Linked DNA regions of Homo sapiens. The protein of the gene in region 1 interacts with the protein of each later gene in a pairwise test. Each region holds a gene or a part of one and is shown in the gene's direction. Other genes may lie near its edges.

Region 1 (3,824 bases):
AGTCTCCAAAGTGTATTTTAAAGTTGTAAATATCAACATTTACTTATCACTGATGCCATTTTCTAGAGCACAGCTTGTTCTTTTAGTTCATTTCTGTAATCATCTGATACTCTTAGGATGCCACTGAAGAGGAATAACTCTAAATGTCAGAACTGGTTATGAAATTGTTTCTTTTTAATTTTGTTTTAATCTGTTATCACTAAACTCAGTAGCAGCCTGGTTGATACTAGCAGTAGCATGCTGATTATTGAGGAATATTTGTTGTTCTGTTTTTATTATTTTACCTAGAATTTCTGTAACTTTTAATTATGGTGTTTGGAAATTATATTTGTTTACTGAATCTTTGTTTGATTGTCTCTAGACCCTCCGCTTGAATTGCCGTCTTTCTACATGACTCCATCTCATCGCCAAGTTGTGTTTGAAGGAGACAGCCTTCCTTTCCAGTGCATGGCTTCATATATTGATCAGGACATGCAAGTGTTGTGGTATCAGGATGGGAGAATAGTTGAAACCGATGAATCGCAAGGTATTTTTGTTGAAAAGAACATGATTCACAACTGCTCCTTGATTGCAAGGTAAACTTTTTTTTTTTTTTTGAATGAAGAATTGTGCCTGTGTATTTTATTTATCCTTTTGGAGGTGTAATGTTTAGTGGAATTTGAATTAATATTTCATCTTCTTGTATTTAAAAATGCAAACATCTGGCATTTCCTTTTCCTGGTTCTTATTCATCTTCTAAAATTAAATAGCCATCTTTTCATCCAGTTTTTAAAGAAAAGACTTAATTTCAAAGAAACTTTAGAAATTGAAGACTTTTTTAAAGTTTTTGGAGGAAAAATGTAAACTTTTAGTGCTAAACCTAATTTCCAACTATTTCCTGCTGCTAAGCTTACATTTTCTCTTTTAGTAATCACCTGATATTGACTCTAGTCAAAATATTGACTGATACAATATTTTAAGGTACTTATCTTCTCCACCTACTAGTATAAAAGAATATAACATCTGAACTATCAACCTCATAATTGGTGTGAATACCAAAATAATTAAAAGTAAAAATACTTTATAAAGTATAATAGACTAAGAATATATATGATATTATCACTTACCAGATATTTTACTTTGGTAAAATTTTTACCTTTAGACATTGAGTTTTCCACTCCCTTTCTTCTTTCTTTCCACCTACCTAGAACTTGGCTTATATTTTTATTTCAGTAGAGCTGCAGTTTTCAGACTCTCTGCCAGGTCCTCCTAGGGTAACATCACAGCAAACTCACAGGGGTGCTATGAAAGATTACTGAAAAACTAAAGGTTCTGAGTTGACATTCAAATCTCAGGGGTTCTCTGAGTTGAGATTCAAGACTTATGCAGTTGGCTATTTTATAATTTTTCTTGAGATTTCATGTCTACTAGAAGCATATTTTCATTTATATCTTCCAACATTTAGAGTAGATGCTTTAAATCCTTTCCTGCTAATTCCAACATGTGGGCAATCTTGTGGTTATTGCTACTGGCTGCTTTTCTTTTAAATATGGTTCATATTTTCTTCTTTTTAAAAAAGTATTGTTTATAGGTCTGACAGTTTTGGATTATAGACTGGACGTTATGAATGATTTGCTGTGGAGGAGAAGCTGGCTAGGTACAGTCTATGAACCAAATCTGGCCCACGGAGCCCATAAACTAAGAATGTTATTTATATTTTTAAATGGTTACATTTCAGATGGTTACATAATTCCCTGCATAATATTCTTAATATTGCTTCGTAGCCAGCAAAGCCTAAAATATGTACTGTCTGGCCATTGAAGAAAAAGTCTGCCGACCTCTGACTCTGGATTCTGTTATATTCTCCTAAAGTGAGCTAACTTTTGTTTGGTCAGGCAGTTAGCTTGGCTGAACTAACTCCTAGCTCTGTCCCCTCTGGTAGGCAGAAGCTAAAGTCTTGGTTTCTGCTCTCTACCTGCAAGTGTAGTTCAGGATCAGTAAGAGATCTTGGTGCATTTTATACATAGAAGTTTGGGCTTCCAGCCTGACTTCTTTCTACCTCTGTCTTCTGATTTTTTAAGCCAATAAGATTGTGAGTTTCTATTTGAGTGAGGCCTACCCTTGGGCAAAAGCCATTAAAAAAAAATCTAGTTACTTCCCAGTGCCAAAAACCCTTGTTTCTCATATCAACTCCTGTTCAGTTATTGCCTGCTTTTGATCAATCTTCATATGTTCAAATGATTGTCATTTTATAATTTGTCAGGGGCATATAATTGTTAGCTGTGGGAAGGGTGATTTAATATGAGCTACTCAGTGATTGCTAGAAGCAGAATTCCCTTATTAGGAGATACGATTAATCGTTCGAAATGATATATTCATTGTTACACTAGTTTTACTGTAGCGATAATTTCACATGCCTATACATATGTCAGAATTCATCACATTGTACACTAAGCAGTTTATTGTATAAACAGACAATAATTGATGTATAATTCAATAGTAAAGTTTTAAAAGTAGAACCATTTTCTATGTAGAAGAGCTTTGATTAATTTAGAACTCTAAATTATTTGACTATAAAATAAGTAGATTTACTGTATAAATCTATTTCTGCAAGTCATGCTTAAATTTAAATTATGTTTAGCAATGCAAAAAAAGTTAATTCTAAGGATAACAAGTTAACCTAACATTTTTTTTGGTAGGGACATGTGACTAAAGTGAAAATCTTTCATGTGAAGCCTGAGACAGTTCTTTACCTAGATTTTGCCCCAGAATAATAAAAGAAAGAAATATGTGGTTATTGCATTGGTTAATCTGAGATTCCTATTGATTTTTCATTGATCTCCCCATGTCTTTGATTCTTCATCAGTAAGAAACAGCATTTTTCTTAGGAGTTGAAATTGAAGCTACTTCTTTCTTTTTAAATCTCCAAATCTGCTGCCTTGAGGATTCCTGGAAATGTTATTCCAGTGATTGGTTTTAGATATTAAAAGTATTGCTAAAAGTTATCCAGGAAACATTTGCAGATTTGGAGATTGAAGGGGAAAAAAGTAGTAAGAAAACTAGAAACACTCCATTATAGTGTTTGGGATGCTGGACTTTGGACAGTTACTGTGGTACAAAGCAAGTGCTACGTGTAAAAGTCATTGTAGAACAAGAAATGAGCATCATTGTCTGATCCGAATCTGAGGTTAGATTAATTTTAGAGTGTCTAGCAGGCACACATATCTCATTAAGAAGTAGTTGTTATTTAAGAATACAATAAAAATTTTATTTCAAATTTATGTGTGTTACTTTTTTCAAATGGCTACTAAAGTATTTGAATATAGATAGACATTTGGGGGATTTAATTTAGTAATAGAAACCACCATCGGTATTTTTTTGAGCTGGGGTGGGGCACCATGACAAAGTTACTATGTCAGTGAAGTAAGACAGTGTTTGGGAACTTCTGGATTAAGGAATGATTTTCATTGACGAAATATACTTCTTCCTAGTTCAGTAAAGCCTTATAAAGTAGAATGTTGGACAAAGTTAAATTTAATGTCAAACTCTTTTTTGTGTCACTCTATTTTAAAAATATTAATTACAGTATGTTTATTTTTCTAACTTAGTAAAGACAACATTTTCTTTGATGATTCATAATATAAAAGTGTCTTGAGCCTTTATTAGAACATTTGCTGTAGCCGTCAATGATTTAGGAGATCGGACAAATGTGTATTTACTTTAAGACATAATTTTGTAAGTTAATTAAAATGATACATACTTTCTGTCTAATTATTTCTTATCATTTGTGTCTACATAACAGCAACGCATACTGGGTCCTGTGGGGGAAATAAAGGTTAATTGAA
Region 2 (3,824 bases), on another chromosome or scaffold:
ATATTCTGATGGGAACGATGGGATAGAGAGAGGCACTGATGGGATAGGCAAAAGAGGCAACGGGATTCAGTGCCCAAGGGGAGCATTGGGAAGTGACAAGGAGAGCAAAGTGTGTGAGCCCTGAGGCAAGTAGAGACAGAGGGAGAGAGATAGTGATCTCTTTAGGATATGTTTATGTCCTCAGTGAAATATGAAGCAAGGTCATCAGCTAAGAGAGAGTCAGGAATGGGGAACGATGGCAGTTTTAGCCTCAGAGAAGGTGTGAAAGATTCATCTTTGAGAGTGGGACAGTAAACATTTTATGGAAGTTTGGTAGAGTCACTGGGAAGTCCTGAAGGCCTATCTGAGATTTACGGTCATAACATTAAAGTACAGCGGGAAGGAGGGTTGTGTGTTTTTCTCTAAGAGCTAAGCAGCTGAGGGATACAGGAGGCAATGCTGAGGACCTACTGTGAGTCCCAGAGAGTGTGTGTGTGAAGAGACACAGACTCGGTCAGGTTAGGGAGCATCCACAGCCAGGTTGTAGAAGGAGCCCAGGTGACGATGGGTGGCCTGAGAGTTTGGAGCTTGCAGTGGTGGCTGAGCTATGCATAGAGATGAGAAACAATGGCCTGGGTCCTGGAGTCATCTAGGGGAGGTGGATGCTCTGACTAGTCATAGCCCGCTCTTGGATTTGCTCTCCCAGGGAGTCAGCAGTGTGGAGGAGAAGATGTTGTGGTGGAGAGAAGTGGTGGTAGACAGGAGCCCTCGGAATCACTGGGCTTCTTTTAAATCCTAGTGAGGTGCCAGGCGCGGTGGCTCATGCCTCTAATCCCAGCACTTTGGGAGGCTGAGCAGGCGGATCACTTGAGGTCAGGAGTTCGAGACCAGCCTGGCCAACATGGTGAAACCCTGTCTTTACTAAAAACACAAAAATTAGCTGGGCATGGTGGTGCACGCCTGTAATACCAGCTACCTGGTAGGCTGAGGCTGGAGAATCGCTTGAACCCGGGAGACAGAGGTTGCAGTGAGCTGAGTCACACCACTGCACTCCAGCCTGGGTGACAGAGCGAGATTCTGTCTAAAAAAAAAAAAAAAAGAAAAATGATATGACAGGAGGGAAGTAGGGAACATACAGTTCACAGGGTCTGAGTAGCTGCTCAGTAGTGCAAAGGATCCCTGAACCTGCCAGTCTGTGGCTCTCAATTTCTTCCTGACACCAATTGAGTAAGAGATGATTTCCTCCAAGAATGTACTGGCTATGTAATAAGCACCAGGCTCTCAGCTACACAGAATAAAAAAGATGAATAAAACACAGTGCCCTCAAGGGCCTCACAGTCTAGTTAAGGAGACAAATTGTCAACAATTATTGCAAGTCTATGACATAGGTGCTCAGAGTGATATTATTACATGGTGCTCAGGATGGTGCTCAGAATGATATTATTACAGTGTGCTAAGGAATATAGCAGTTCATTGTGCCGAGAGGTCACTGAGAAGCTTCTACATGCATGACCATTGACAGAGCAGAGACTTAAAGAAGATGGCACTACTTCTGCTGGGTCGTCAACGAGATGTTATATGTTTTTTTATTAACTGTCTTAAGTATGTTTTTCATGCAAAATGTGAGCAGAAGAATAAATATACTATCATATTATTATATTCAAGGGACATACATTCTTAAATATGACGTGCTGTTTTGGAGAAAAGGGCTGTCGGTCTGCACTAGGCTGCGGGAGAGGAAAGAGATTAAAAACTGAAACCAGGGCAGGGATGAGTGTGCTATCCACAGCTGAGAAGTGAAACACCCATGTTTAATAGGGACTGACCCAGGAAAATCAGGTGAGTAGGCTATTTGACTGCAAAGGTCCTTCCTGTATATTGTGAGAAGTCTCACGTTCCCTTTTCCCAAGCTTCTTTCCACTAAGGCTGGGTTGCTTGCTGCATTGAATAGCATGACTGTTGGGAGGAATCTGACTTGCCTGCTTCCAAGTCTAAATCTTGCTAATCTTGTTCCATTTTTGCATCCTAAATGTTTGGTTGAAATTCAGAATGCCTTCAAGGGAGGGGGGTGCCATGTGCAGTTGTTAACAGTCATTTATACTTTGGAGCAAATGCTTTCAAAAGCAAATTTTGGCCATGGAGATGAGTAGAGAGACTATGACGGTGTCAGCCTTCAACCTACGAAAGAGAAGGAAGGATAAGAACTCTGCTTCTCAGGAAGCTCCAGCATCTAAAGCCTATGAATCATCTTTGTTGATTTCATCTCATTGTCTAGAGCCCACTAGTTCCAGAGGCAGTGTGCTGCTGAATGGAGAAACTGTTGGCCTGAGATTTAAACCTAGGCTTTCTTTTTCATATAACAGGGGATGTTATATAGGTCAGCTGCCCAGCATAGTGCCTAACTCAGAGTAAATGGTAATAAATGTTCATCTTACCAGAATTCAAATGATTCACAGACCATTACTGATGTATGTCAACATGCAGATGTTGCCATGAGGGGTGGATGTCCTTGGCATTCTAAGAAATAGAAAGCATTGGAAAGAAGATGAAAAGGCAACAATCACTGAAAACATAGTTACGTGTCTGAATTCTGGATATGTTATCTGATTTAAACACAAAACCCAGCGTTATTATAGGACCTAAGCCATTGATTGCTGTTGCCACTGAATCAAAGGAGGCAGCATTGGGCTGAGATGTGGCTTACATAGACATAGAATATTTGAGGATTATGTTTATAAAAGAACAGGAGGCAGCACATTGATAGAGCAGAAAAATGTGTTTTAAGATTGGATGTTTGAGGAGGGCACAGCTGGCAGTGGATTTATCAGGTGGAGGCAATGAGGCAGAGAATGATTCATTCATTCATTCAGCAGTTTCATTGAACATATACTGTTTGCCAGGAAGCTATAGAATCACTGGAGATAAAGACAAATAAATCCCTGCCCTAATGGAGCAGAACATCTGAACAATTAGATACCTAGCAAAGGTATATGAAAAATGACAAGGAAAAAGGACAAGTACATACAATGATATATGATAATCCCAAACCCTCTGCGGATGCCCAAGATAACCAGGGGTTGAGGGTTGCTTCACTGCAGGTACAAAGGGAGCAGTTCCCTAGTTCTCATGGAAAAGGTTCACCTCTTAGAGATAATGGTGTGAAGAAAAACTAGTGCCATTAGGATTTATTTTATTTTATTTATTTATTTAATGACAGGATCTCATTCTTTCACCCAGACTGGAGTTCAGTGGTAATCATAGCTCACTGCGGCCTCGAACTCAAGTGATTCTCCCACCTCAGCCTTCTGAGTAGCTGGGACTACAGGCATGCACCACCATGCCTGGCTAATTTTTATATTTTATTTTTATAGAAATGGGATCTTGCTGTGTTGTCCAGGCTGGTCTTGAGCTCCTGACCTCAAGCAATCCTTTTTCTTTAGCCTCCCAAAACATTGAGATTAGAGGCATGAGTCACCACACCTGGCTAGAATTTATTTTAAGATAAGAAGCCAGCGTTTCAGTTACTCTTACTACACCACAGACCATCCCAAAAGGTAGTGGCTTAAAGCAGCAGCCATCTATGTCTCATGATTCTATGGTCAAAAGTACGTCAGCACCCAGCTTGCCTGGCAATTGAAGCTGGCTGTGAGTCTTGGTGGCCTCTGTTCCCTTCTAAACCACCTTCTTATAGCATGGCAGCTCTCCCCCAAGAAAGTCAAGGCAGAAACTGTGAGGCCTTTGAAGAGCTAGGCTCACACCTGGTCCAGCATCACTGCTGTTTCATTCTGCAGTCACAGCAAGTCAGGAGACCAGCCTAGGTTCAAGGGGAAGCGAGACAGACTCAT

The links.
Region 2: the proteins of ADGRA3 (region 1) and ADRA1A interact in a two-hybrid assay, tested with the Homo sapiens proteins (one large-scale study listed by BioGRID and IntAct).

What each region holds. Positions count from the first base shown.
Region 1 is NC_000004.12:22,439,401-22,443,224, reverse strand, and holds part of ADGRA3 (adhesion G protein-coupled receptor A3 precursor), read left to right. Parts: intron 1-89; exon of another isoform or gene 90-117; coding exon of another isoform or gene 118-145; intron 146-361; coding exon 362-575; intron 576-3,824. UniProt on the Homo sapiens protein: Orphan receptor that may have a role in planar cell polarity pathway.
Region 2 is NC_000008.11:26,857,026-26,860,849, reverse strand, and holds part of ADRA1A (alpha-1A adrenergic receptor), read left to right. Parts: intron 1-1,644; exon of another isoform or gene 1,645-1,818; intron 1,819-2,067; exon of another isoform or gene 2,068-2,157; intron 2,158-2,414; exon of another isoform or gene 2,415-2,496; intron 2,497-3,824. UniProt on the Homo sapiens protein: This alpha-adrenergic receptor mediates its action by association with G proteins that activate a phosphatidylinositol-calcium second messenger system. Its effect is mediated by G(q) and G(11) proteins.